Homo sapiens: one gene and its partners. The protein of the gene in region 1 purifies or fractionates together with the protein of each later gene. This does not show direct contact. Each region holds a gene or a part of one and is shown in the gene's direction. Other genes may lie near its edges. The genes, in order: SLC13A5, POLR3B and UFD1.

What was found.
Region 2: the proteins of SLC13A5 (region 1) and POLR3B purify together in Homo sapiens (affinity purification with mass spectrometry; one large-scale study listed by BioGRID and IntAct). This does not show direct contact.
Region 3: the proteins of SLC13A5 (region 1) and UFD1 purify together in Homo sapiens (affinity purification with mass spectrometry; one large-scale study listed by BioGRID and IntAct). This does not show direct contact.

The regions. Positions count from the first base shown.
Region 1 is NC_000017.11:6,703,271-6,706,920, reverse strand, and holds part of SLC13A5 (Na(+)/citrate cotransporter), read left to right. Parts: intron 1-142; coding exon 143-279; intron 280-2,864; coding exon 2,865-3,043; intron 3,044-3,650. UniProt on the Homo sapiens protein: High-affinity sodium/citrate cotransporter that mediates the entry of citrate into cells, which is a critical participant of biochemical pathways.
Region 2 is NC_000012.12:106,430,715-106,434,364, forward strand, and holds part of POLR3B (DNA-directed RNA polymerase III subunit RPC2), read left to right. Parts: intron 1-1,603; coding exon 1,604-1,766; intron 1,767-3,004; coding exon 3,005-3,158; intron 3,159-3,650. UniProt on the Homo sapiens protein: Catalytic core component of RNA polymerase III (Pol III), a DNA-dependent RNA polymerase which synthesizes small non-coding RNAs using the four ribonucleoside triphosphates as substrates.
Region 3 is NC_000022.11:19,465,637-19,469,286, reverse strand, and holds part of UFD1 (ubiquitin recognition factor in ER-associated degradation protein 1), read left to right. Parts: intron 1-1,283; coding exon 1,284-1,414; intron 1,415-3,650. UniProt on the Homo sapiens protein: Essential component of the ubiquitin-dependent proteolytic pathway which degrades ubiquitin fusion proteins.

The DNA.
Region 1 (3,650 bases):
TTGTGGATTCTCCCTGGCAGGGAGACACCACTCGAGCCTGCATCCCCACTCCAAGCTGTCCCTGAAGTCAGCATCTGGGGACTGGGTGGCTCTAGTGTGTGGCAAGGGACAGTCCTGATGAGGCCTTCGTGCCACGCTCCAGGTGTGTGTCCAGTACATGAAGGACACCAACATGCTGTTCCTGGGCGGCCTCATCGTGGCCGTGGCTGTGGAGCGCTGGAACCTGCACAAGAGGATCGCCCTGCGCACGCTCCTCTGGGTGGGGGCCAAGCCTGCACGGTAATTACGCCTTCTCTCTCTTGCCACGTGGCTCTGCATGAGCCCCAGGGCTGGAAGGGGGTGGAGGATGGCACAGACCAGGCCATCCACTGGTGAGGGCTGGCCATGGGCTTACCTGGACTTGGCTGGGTGGGGTGCGTTATAGCTTTAGTGGGAGAGACCAGATGCATGCGTGGTGGTGGCACATGGTGAGCAGCAGTAAGTAAGGGTCCTCGAATCCAGAGGAGGTGGGTCAGCAAGAGTCCTTGCAGGCTTGGAAGGCTTTCTGGGGGAGGCAGCTAGCTGCAGGGTTCCACCGGGAACAAATTGGATAGAGGCTGGATCAAGCTGTGTCTGATAGGATAAGGGAAGCAGGCCAGAAGTGGCTCAACTACCCAGCTCATGGGGAAGCAGAAAGGTCCTCTCTCCAAGCTGGAGCATCTATTCCCACTGCAAAGAAGCTTCTTATCTTCCCCGATATCACTCAGTACCCCAGCTTCTCTCTCCATTTCCAGGATCTCTCCTGCCAATCTAGCTAGCCATTTCCAGCTAAGCCATGGAGTCAATATAATCATAATCATAACCATAATCAATCATGATCATAATGGGTATATTGAGTGTCTACAAGGCCCCAGGCATGATACCAGGAGCTTATGAATTGCCTCATTTAATTCTTACCACAACTCTGAGAGCTGAGTATTCTTACTGCCCACATTCTGTGGATGAGGGATTGGAGGCAGAGAGGGATAAAGTGATTTGCTCATGGACACACGGGGATTGGACCCAGCTTCTCTGATAAGGCCTGTGTCCTCTCTAATCAGAAACTCAGGGCATATCTTCCTTTTGAGACAATGTGTCCCCTCAATGATGGCACGTCCTTGGCCCAGCCATCAGGAGTCAGCTGCTGGTCAGTTTACGGTAAATTCCTCCTGAGGCGCCCCTGTGTCAGGGGCTGTGCTAGACCCTGAGCACACACAGACGCTAGCCTGCCCTGCAGGCAACCCATGCCCGGGGCTCCCTTGGTGCCTCAGATTCCCCTGAGCAGGGGACTTTGTGGCTCTCTGATCTGTTACACATCCTGGCATTGATTCCTTCCAGTAATTGCTTTAGCATCAAATCAAAAGCCATCATATTTTCTAGAAATGAGAGACCCCAGGAAAGTGGACCTCAGGGCCCTCAGAATTCTTCTGCTTGGCTCCCTTGAGTGGCCAGCTTGGGTGGGAGGCCACTCCAGTGGGTTTCATTCTGCAGCATGCTGGAGAGCTTCCACTTCCAAACCCAAGTTCACACATGCTTCTGTATCCTTCCTGCCACCTTGCTCCTCTGAGTATGGTCTCCGGTTGTCCAAGGCACTGCCTGTCCTGGGAGTCACCTGTATGTGAGGCACCCTTGGTGCCTTGAGATATCATGTAGAAGCCTTGGTTCTTCTCAGACAACTCCATTCATGCAAACTCTCCCCCTCCTCCTAGCCTGGGTCCCGGGCTTTGTTTTTTTTTGGGTCCATAATGTCTGCCTGTGTGGACAGCAGCTTGGGCCCTGGTGCAGAACAGCTCCTAGGTCCCTTCTTCAGGCTCCTACCCCTGCCCCTGCTCCTACCCCCAGGTGAATTAGGAGCCCTGAGGAGGAGCCTGGCTGCAGCGAGGCCCACAGACTGAGAGTAGCTGAGCTCCTTCTGTCCCTAGCCTTGGACAGCTGGGGCATGTAGAGCCACAGAGCAGAGTCAGGCCCTGCCCTGCTCACAGCCCAAGGAGAGAGCAGACATGGAAACAGGTGCTTTGAACCCAGCACAGCGATGATTAGAGTAGGGGGAAGGATTGAGAAGGGTCAGGCCAGCCCCACCTGGTGCACACACTGAGAGCGTGGTCCCAGAGGAGGGATGTTGTTTGAGCAGGCTCTGAAGGACCATGAGGAGTCTTCCTGATAGACAGCAGAGAAGGGAGCAGGGGTTACAAGCAAAGGGAGTGTTTCTTCTGAATACTGTTTGTGTGATAGCTCCACTGCAGCATGGAGGGGTCAAAGTGTATGTGCGGGGCGGAGGGGAGATGGCAGGGTTGGAGTGGCAGCCGGGAGAATAGTCACACTTTCCCAAGCTCCCTCCCCAGCTCACCCTACCCCTACTCTGCTTAGCCCTTCTGAACTTCTGAGAGGTGCAACAGAGTTTGGGGGTGGGTGGGAATTTCCTAGCCAGAAGTGGGAAGCTGGGGCTGCCTGCACATAGGGGTATTCCAGCACACCCTAGGGCAAGCTCATATTGAGTTGGCACCATCTGGATGCCTGGGCTTCCCCTGCTAGATGGTGGGGCAGGGGTGCTCCTTAGAACCACGACTGGATCTGAGGCCTCTTGGTAACCCCAGAAGCAAGCAGAGTAGACATCAGTCATGGGTGTGGGAGAGGCAGGAGGGAGAGAGGAATGGAGGAAGCAAAGAAGGGAAGGAGGGAGGGAGGGGAGGCTCTAAAACCGTCATCCCTATTCCAATATCTGATCTTGAATTGGCCTCAACACCTGTGCATCCCTGCAGGGGTGGACCCAGTCCCCAGTTGCTTCCCAGGGAGTACGGGGGTGGGGTGGGGATTCTCTGGCTTTCCTCCCTGCCCCTCCTCTGCAGGCTGATGCTGGGCTTCATGGGCGTCACAGCCCTCCTGTCCATGTGGATCAGTAACACGGCAACCACGGCCATGATGGTGCCCATCGTGGAGGCCATATTGCAGCAGATGGAAGCCACAAGCGCAGCCACCGAGGCCGGCCTGGAGCTGGTGGACAAGGGCAAGGCCAAGGAGCTGCCAGGTGAGCCCCTGGCCAGGGCACTGCCAGGCCACAACAGCAGCCTTCCCCTCCCTCTGCTGGCAAATGCTTTGGCCACCTCCTTCTCCCTGTCTGCTTCCCGGAGCCCTCCTTTAAACACGCATAGAGAAAAAAAAATAGAAAATACTGTTGTCCTAAGTTTTAGGAGGGGATTATTGCACACAACTTAGATCCTTTAATAGAGCTTTGAACAAAGTCTCACCCTCAGTTCCCATCAGTTGCAGAAATCAGTGTGTTCACCTGATTATTCATTTGGGCATCTTTCGAGCACTTAGGGATGCCCCTCACTCCTTGCTACTCCTGCTCATCCTCAAGGAGGCCTTTTCTGACCTCCTCGAGCAGCTCAAATCCTTCCACTCTCTGCTCCCATAGGTCTGGGGCTTGGCGTCCCATGCTTGCTTCCCTGCTAGGTGCGAAGCTCAGGGAAGACGAGTCAGCATCTACCTTGCCGTCTGCCGTGTTCCCTTACCATCCCCAGCCCAGTGCAGTAGAGTCAGGGTCTGTGGCTGACGGCCTGATTGCCAGACCCTGGGCAAGGTCCTGGGGCTTACAGAGAGGAATCGGGCACATCCCTGCCAGCAACTCTTAT
Region 2 (3,650 bases), on another chromosome or scaffold:
TCTTTATTATTTTAGTTTATCCCAAAATCAAAACATGCACAGAGGGGATAAGACTGTGAAGGCAGATTGAAAGACCTACCACCTCTCATGCTCATGAGGGGCTCTTTTTGAGCAGCTCCTTATTGTCCTTAGGTAGGCTCAGTCACAGCCAATTAGGAGTATACAGTCCATGACCTAATGTGGATTTTGACTCACTTATATTGGAAACACAAGCAATTGCCTAAACATCAAGCCAGGGAGTTTACATGGGTTTACTTCTATAGCACCCGCTACTCCCTGTGTCACGGTCCTTTCTCCTTTGTGTTAACATTGTTAGTTTCACTTGATTCTATTCCTTCTAAATTGTAAAATTCTGGAGGAAGGAAGGTTCACCATTGTATCTCAAGCTCCTAACATAGAGCCTTGGTTAGAGTACAGGCCCCATGAATATATGCTGAATTAATAATTACAACAAGTAAAAGATGTAGGGTCCAAAGTGTAGGAATTTATTATTTGGAAGAGATGAAAATAGGAGTCTGTATAGAGCTGCGATTTTTAGAAACTATTTAATTTATCTTAAACCATATGGAAATTGACACTAAAATTATCCAGTTTGTCAAATTTTGCATAATTTATATATCTTGAACTTTGAAACATTTCATTTCCCAGAGATTGCTTCAGCTAACTTCAAAAAAGTAGCTATTTTGTACATTACTGCAGCAGATGGTTCTAAGACCTGAAGATACAATCTTACAAGTCACCTGTCTTAAGTATTTTTTTCCTATTTGCTATATTCTGTCCTTGTTGGTATTTTTGTTTTAGAACTGTACCGGGTTGCATAGATGTTTAAAAAGATTTCTTTTCTTTTCATTTTGAAATAATTTTAGATATACAAAAAAGTGATGAAACTGGTACAAAGATTTTCCACAATCTTTCATCTAGATTCCCAACTGTGAACATCTTATGTAACCATAGCACTGTTATCAGCCTCATGACATTGAACAATACTATAATCTATGGATCTTATTCAAATTTTGCCAGTTGTCCCACTGTTGTCTTTTTTCTGATCCAGAATCACACATTGTTTTTAGTTGTCATGTCTCCTTGTCTCTTTTCATCTGAAAGAGTTTTTCAGTCTGTCTTTATTTACCTTTCGTGACCAAGAAACTTAAGGGCACTGGCCAGTTATTTTATACAGTCTCTCATTTCAGGCCAGAAGTTTTATATTTTTATGTAGCTGCATTTATTAATGTTTTCCTTTACTTATTTTATACAATGTCATCATAATGACTGTAATGTTCCAATGTCTGGGAGTAATTGTTAATGTAATCAGTTTTGTTGGGCATTTATGATGTCGTCAGCATTTACAATTACAAATAGTACTGTGCTGAGCATTTCTGTATCTAAATCTATTTTATATCCTTGCTTGTTATGAAGAGAAATTCCCCTGAGTTAAGGGATATATATATTTTTTAAAGGCATTTGTGCGAATCACCACAGTATCCCCTACAAAGTTGTACTGCTTTGCATTGCTGCCAGCAAAGTAGTGAGCTATTTTCAGATGTAAACTGTACTTTGTATTACTAATGTTCATTCTTAGAAATGACCATCTTTTGTTTTTTAGGCATGTGGTTTGGTTAAAAACTTGGCCCTTATGACACACATCACAACTGATATGGAAGATGGACCCATTGTTAAATTAGCCAGTAACTTGGGAGTAGAAGATGTGAATTTATTATGTGGGGAAGAGCTCTCTTACCCAAATGTGTTTCTTGTCTTTCTTAATGGTGGGTATATTATAGAGACATGTTGGTCCTAGATAGTCTGTGAAGAGGGGGAGGGAATCCATTATTATCCTGGTATTTAAAGCACAGATAGACTTTAATTCTGGGCCCAGGTTGACCTTCACTTAAAGGTAGAAAATACAATGATAACAGAAACAGTTACTTTGTTGGCTGGGTTATCCAAGGTTCTGAGAGGATATAGCTATCAGAGCTAAAGGGTAACTTTGCAGAAAGTGGCTGCTTTCTCCCCTTTTGCAGTTGCTGGCATATCCTTAGTGGAATACGGTTCAACATGGTATCTTTAAGTACAAGTCAAATATTGGAGTCATTCTGCAAAAATTATCAGATCAACTCTTATAATGAATTGACTTTGTCTAGCCATCTGATAATCAATATGTCAGCAGCCTGTGATAAGAGGATCCCTCTCCTTTGGCTCACACTCCAGTTATTTCTTTCATATACCTCTTCCCGTCTCCTTCGAAGTCTTCCAGAGACTTAGCAGCAAGTGTGCTCTCTTCCTTTCTGCTTTTGATTTGGTGCTGTGTGCCTGTTCTCTCCCTAGTATGCTCCATGAGCTTATCCCTTATCACTTGTCTGTTCTCTCTTCCTCTCCCCCTTCCTCTCATTCTAGGAGGCATTAACTCTTTTTTATATCTGCTGGTGAGGAAGGGGTCAGAGCCTCAGCAGGGCTGTTAACTGACTGCCTAGTTCATTGTATCCCAGAGGCTAACATTGAGTGAGCTTTTACTCTGCACTTTCACCCAGTGCCTCTTTGAATCCTCCCGCTAACCTTGGGAAGCAAAGTTCATTTTCCTCATTTCACAAATGTTGATTACAACAAGAAGCAGTTTAATAATAGCAGTTAGTAGGTGCTAGGCAGAATTCTCAGTACTTTAAATGATCAGCTCGTTTAACCTTTACTGCCAGCCTGTGGAAGTGATGGAGCCAGTGTTCAAACCCAGGTTGTTTGGACCCCAAGTTCATGCCCCAGCACTGTGCTGAAAGATGAGGAAAATGAAGCTGACTTTTCCAGTATTCCTCAGCCTGCATGTGGAAGGACTGGCCCTTAAGCATTCTTCCTTTGTTGCTTCCCTGCAACCTTGTGGACTGGCTGCAGGTGTTAATAATGGTATTTTCAAATAACTGCTTAGTGCTGATTACTATTTTTATTGGTTGGATATATTAAATCAGGTTGCATTTATTTTTTATTTCTGTCTTACCTGTTCTTTCTTTTTGCCTAGGTAACATCTTAGGTGTCATTCGAGACCACAAAAAGCTAGTGAATACATTTCGACTCATGAGAAGAGCAGGATATATCAATGAATTTGTTTCCATCTCAACAAATCTTACAGATCGATGTGTCTATATTTCTTCTGATGGGGGAAGGCTATGCAGGTATATATGCAGGTTACTAAAAAGAGTTTTTAAGAATCTCTTTATATTTGCTCTTGAAAGAAATAGACTTGTTTTTATTTTTGAAACTGTTTTAACCTCTTTCATTGTGAAGATAAATTTAATTCCGTGAGCAAACACTTCATGAATATGCATATTAGGTACCGAGGATTCAGATTAATGGGAGACAGAGTCTGCCCTCAGAGAGCTCAGTCTGCCGGGAAAGGCAGAAAAAATGACTAATAACAATCAACTGTGGTAGTGGTTAATGCTAGCCACCATTTGTCATTTTAATGGAGACACTATATGTGTAAGGCTTTAACTTCTTCATTCAACCCTATGAGGTTGGATTATTCTTGTCATTTAAGAAATGAGGAAACTGAGGTTCAGTGAGGCTAAGTAACTTACTGAAAGCTAAAGAGTGGTGGAATCTGTTTTTTATTTGAAAGTCCTTAGGATTCGTTTGACGCATGATTTTGCCCACTATAGTCTGTT
Region 3 (3,650 bases), on another chromosome or scaffold:
CAAATTTCCCACAAAAATCTACCCAGGGACAGTGCGCCTGGCCTGCGACTGGCTAACTCTGAGCCTTAGAATACTTCCTGTTAGAACATCACTCCTGGGGATGCCAGACCCCCGTTACCAAAGCCAGTCACCTCTGCATCCTTCTGTGCCTGCCTGTGGCATTTGGTAGAGTGACCACCCTCTATTTCTGCCCTTACTAGCCTGACAAGCAGCTGTCAGCGTGAGTGCATGGGGTCCTCTGCAAGCCTATCCATAGGGCCCACCACTCAGGCTTCACTCATGGCCTAGGCACGGCTTCCCAGGCACAGCCTCGGCCTCAGCATGCCTCTCCCTCCTCATGAGCTCCCTCTCATTTGTGACACAGCCCTCAGCCCCCTTTTCCCTTGGCTGTTAAAGTCACCTTCTCACTGCCACTCCCGATGAAACATTCTTGAAGGGATGTGATACCTGGGATTTGCTTCAGGGCATCTAATGTGGCTTGGGACTGGGTGTGAGGTAGTGCTGATCGATGGACTGAGCCACGACGTGAGCACTGTCCAACTGTCAGGGCTCGGTGCGTGGGAGCTCTCTTCTACGGCTCTTTCTACTGATGTATATGTCTGACACCCCTTTTAAGACGGTTTCAAATAAGACAAGCAAAATTTCATTGCAAGAGACATAGAGCTTCTGACCTGAGTCTGGACTCCCTGCACACCCAGTACTCATGGGCATTGTTTATCTCTTTCCGTCTCACTTCTCAGCCGTCGTCTACCTGGCTGGGTTGTTTAATAGAGACATGTGGAGGCTTTGTCAGATTTTTATAACCTCCTTAGCAGAGACCTCTGGGGTCTGTCACCATCTTGCAGCCTCAGCTGTGGTGGGCCATTCCATTGCCAGGTCAGCCTTGCCTTGTGCTGCTTTTGTCCTACCTCAGGTGCAGCCCTACTTGACGCAGGGCCTTATAATTTGCTTGTGGGACAGCTTGGAAGTACAGTGAGTGACTATTCCAGGAAAATGCTCTGCCCCTGGGAAGCCTGGAGCTAGTGAGTAATCCGGGCAGCCCTGCAGAGATGCGTTCACACTGTGAGCTATACAGCTTCAGTAGCACCCCTTTATTGGCCTTCTTCCTTCCACATCACTTGATTTTTCCCTCCTTCCTGACATAGTATCACGAATTACTTATCTTGGCTCAGGTTCCTCTTCCAAGGACCCAAGTAAGACGGGCCTGCCCAGTGTATAGGGAGCAGTGGTTGTGGAGGCTGCTTCATCTCTAGGAGTCTCATGTAGCCTCTTCTTCCTTTCAGATGATGCAGAACTTACTCTTGGAAGAAGGCGGCCTGGTCCAGGTGGAGAGCGTCAACCTTCAAGTGGCCACCTACTCCAAATTCCAACCTCAGAGCCCTGACTTCCTGGACATCACCAACCCCAAAGCCGTGTATCTTTTTCAAATAAGCGGAGTTCTTCTAGACAAAGGAGAGTGTGCTGGCGGTTGTTAAACATCATGTACTGTATTGAATCTGTGCCTGCTTTGGGGATCACACATTTGTGATTCAAGTTGTGATTTGAGAATAATGGGGTTCAGCTAGCACATCTGCGTGGCCCTGGCCAAGTGCACTGGGTGCTGTCTGGGCCACCTCTGTCACTTTCCAGACACTTCATGGAGACCACAATGAAGCCCTTCTTTCAGTTGGTCTGTGTCACCTGGCACAAAGCCAGGATGCACAGTATGTCCAGTGGAAGGAGGGAGCAGCTTATCTGCCTTCAGCTCCAGCCCCTTCTGTGGCTCCCTAGTACCTCCGCCCAGCTGTGCACTGGCCCGTCAACCTCACTGCATGCCAGCCTGAGAGCTGATTCACTCCAGGCCAATAGGTAGCAATGACTGCAGTTTCTATGTCACCAAGCAGAAAGCAAAGGTATCAGGTTCTAGTGGATTCTTTTTGTTCACCTCTGAACTTAAGCCAGGTGTATGTGTTGACAGCATCAGGAAGTAGGCAGTGCAGGTACGGGACGGTGCTGTGTGCACCAATCAAGATCTCTAGCTCCATGGCCCTGATTTTTCCTGTTACGATCATGGCATAAGAGTGGCCACTCCATTCTACTTCTTTTTTTTTATTTTTTTTTAATGCATACTTGAAAAAAAAAACAAACAGTCAAACAACACAGACAGATAGGAAGTTAAGAAAAGCTGCCTCCTTTCCCAGTAGCGCTCTCTCCGCATGTTTTCTTAGGAGCAAGGCACTGCTGGGTGTGCTCTGGATGCATATGGGCCATGTATATTCTTTGCTGCCTATGTTCTGGACACGATGGCCTTGTTGAGCCTCCTGTCCCACAGGCAGGGGGATGTCCTATGGGAAGAGCTAGTTAACTTGTCCTTCAGAGCTCTGACCTAGACATGCTTGTTTGGCTGTCAGTGACCAGGAATGGGCCATGCCCATTTTCTCAGGGTTTTTACATGTGTTGCAATGCAGACTTTTTTTTGAGACGGAGTCTCACTCTGCTGCTCAGGTTGGAGTGCAGTGGCACGGTCTCAGCTCACTGCAAACTCTGCCTCCCAGATTCAAGTGATTCTCCTGCCTCAGCCTCCTGAGTAGCTGGGATTACAGGTGTGCACCACCACACCCGGCTAATTTTTGTATTTTTAGTAGAGACGGAGTTTCACCATGTTGCCTAAGCTGGTCTCGAACTCCTGACCTCAGGTGCTCCACCTGCCTCAGCCTCCCAAAGTGCTGGGATTACGTGCATGAGCCACCGCGCCCTGCCCCAATGCAGACTTATCAGGTTGATCTCAGATGCTGTTTTGTCAGCACAATTAACTTGTTAGTGTGTGGAGAAAGGGCGTCACTTCCATCAGTTGAGAGCCTGGTGTTTTCTGGTCTGGCTGAGGTCTGGATGAAAGCAGTCTTGGCACCGAGCAGAGAAAGTGGGAAGCTGGTGCTGCAGCAGGTGCCAGAGTACGCAGAGGCCATATGGGGAGCCCGCCCTGCCTGCAGAGGCCTCGTGTTCTCAGCCTGAGGGCTCTGGCTCTGCTCCTCCAGCTGCTGCAGTGGAAGTCAGAGAAGATGCCCTGGCAGGGTCACTAGAGGAGTGGAGGGAAGGGCACTTCGTACCGTGGCACTTCATATTTGGGAGCAAAGAAAGCATCCACCACATAAGGCGCTTTTCACAAAGTTGCTCTGGTTCTGGAAAGCTGTTTGACCAAGCGAGGTGAACCTAGATAGCCTCACCCTTTCACCCTCAAGTTGGACTCACAGTGGCAGGCTCTGGAGCCACATTTCATGTGACCTTTTTATGTAAAGTCCTTCAGCAAATTGATGAGGAAGACATGGCAAAATATTCCACATGAATAGACATTTCCTTGTGTGGGCATTTGGGTTCTACAGTTTTACTGTTATAAAAAGTATTTGCTGGTTTCTTTATTTTAATTTCTATTAACTAAAGTTATCAGCTCAAAAGATAGAAACAACAGAAGTATAAATGAAAGCATCTTTGATTTTGAGGAACTTTTGAGAGGACCTATCTGACTCATTAAATCTTTTTTGTTCTTTAGTACTCCCACAGGATTTTTTAAAATCCCATGGTATAATTTGTATACAATAAAATGCACACAGTTCAGCCAGTTTGAAAATGTATACACCCATGTAATCAGAACATTTCCATGTCCCCAAAAGGTC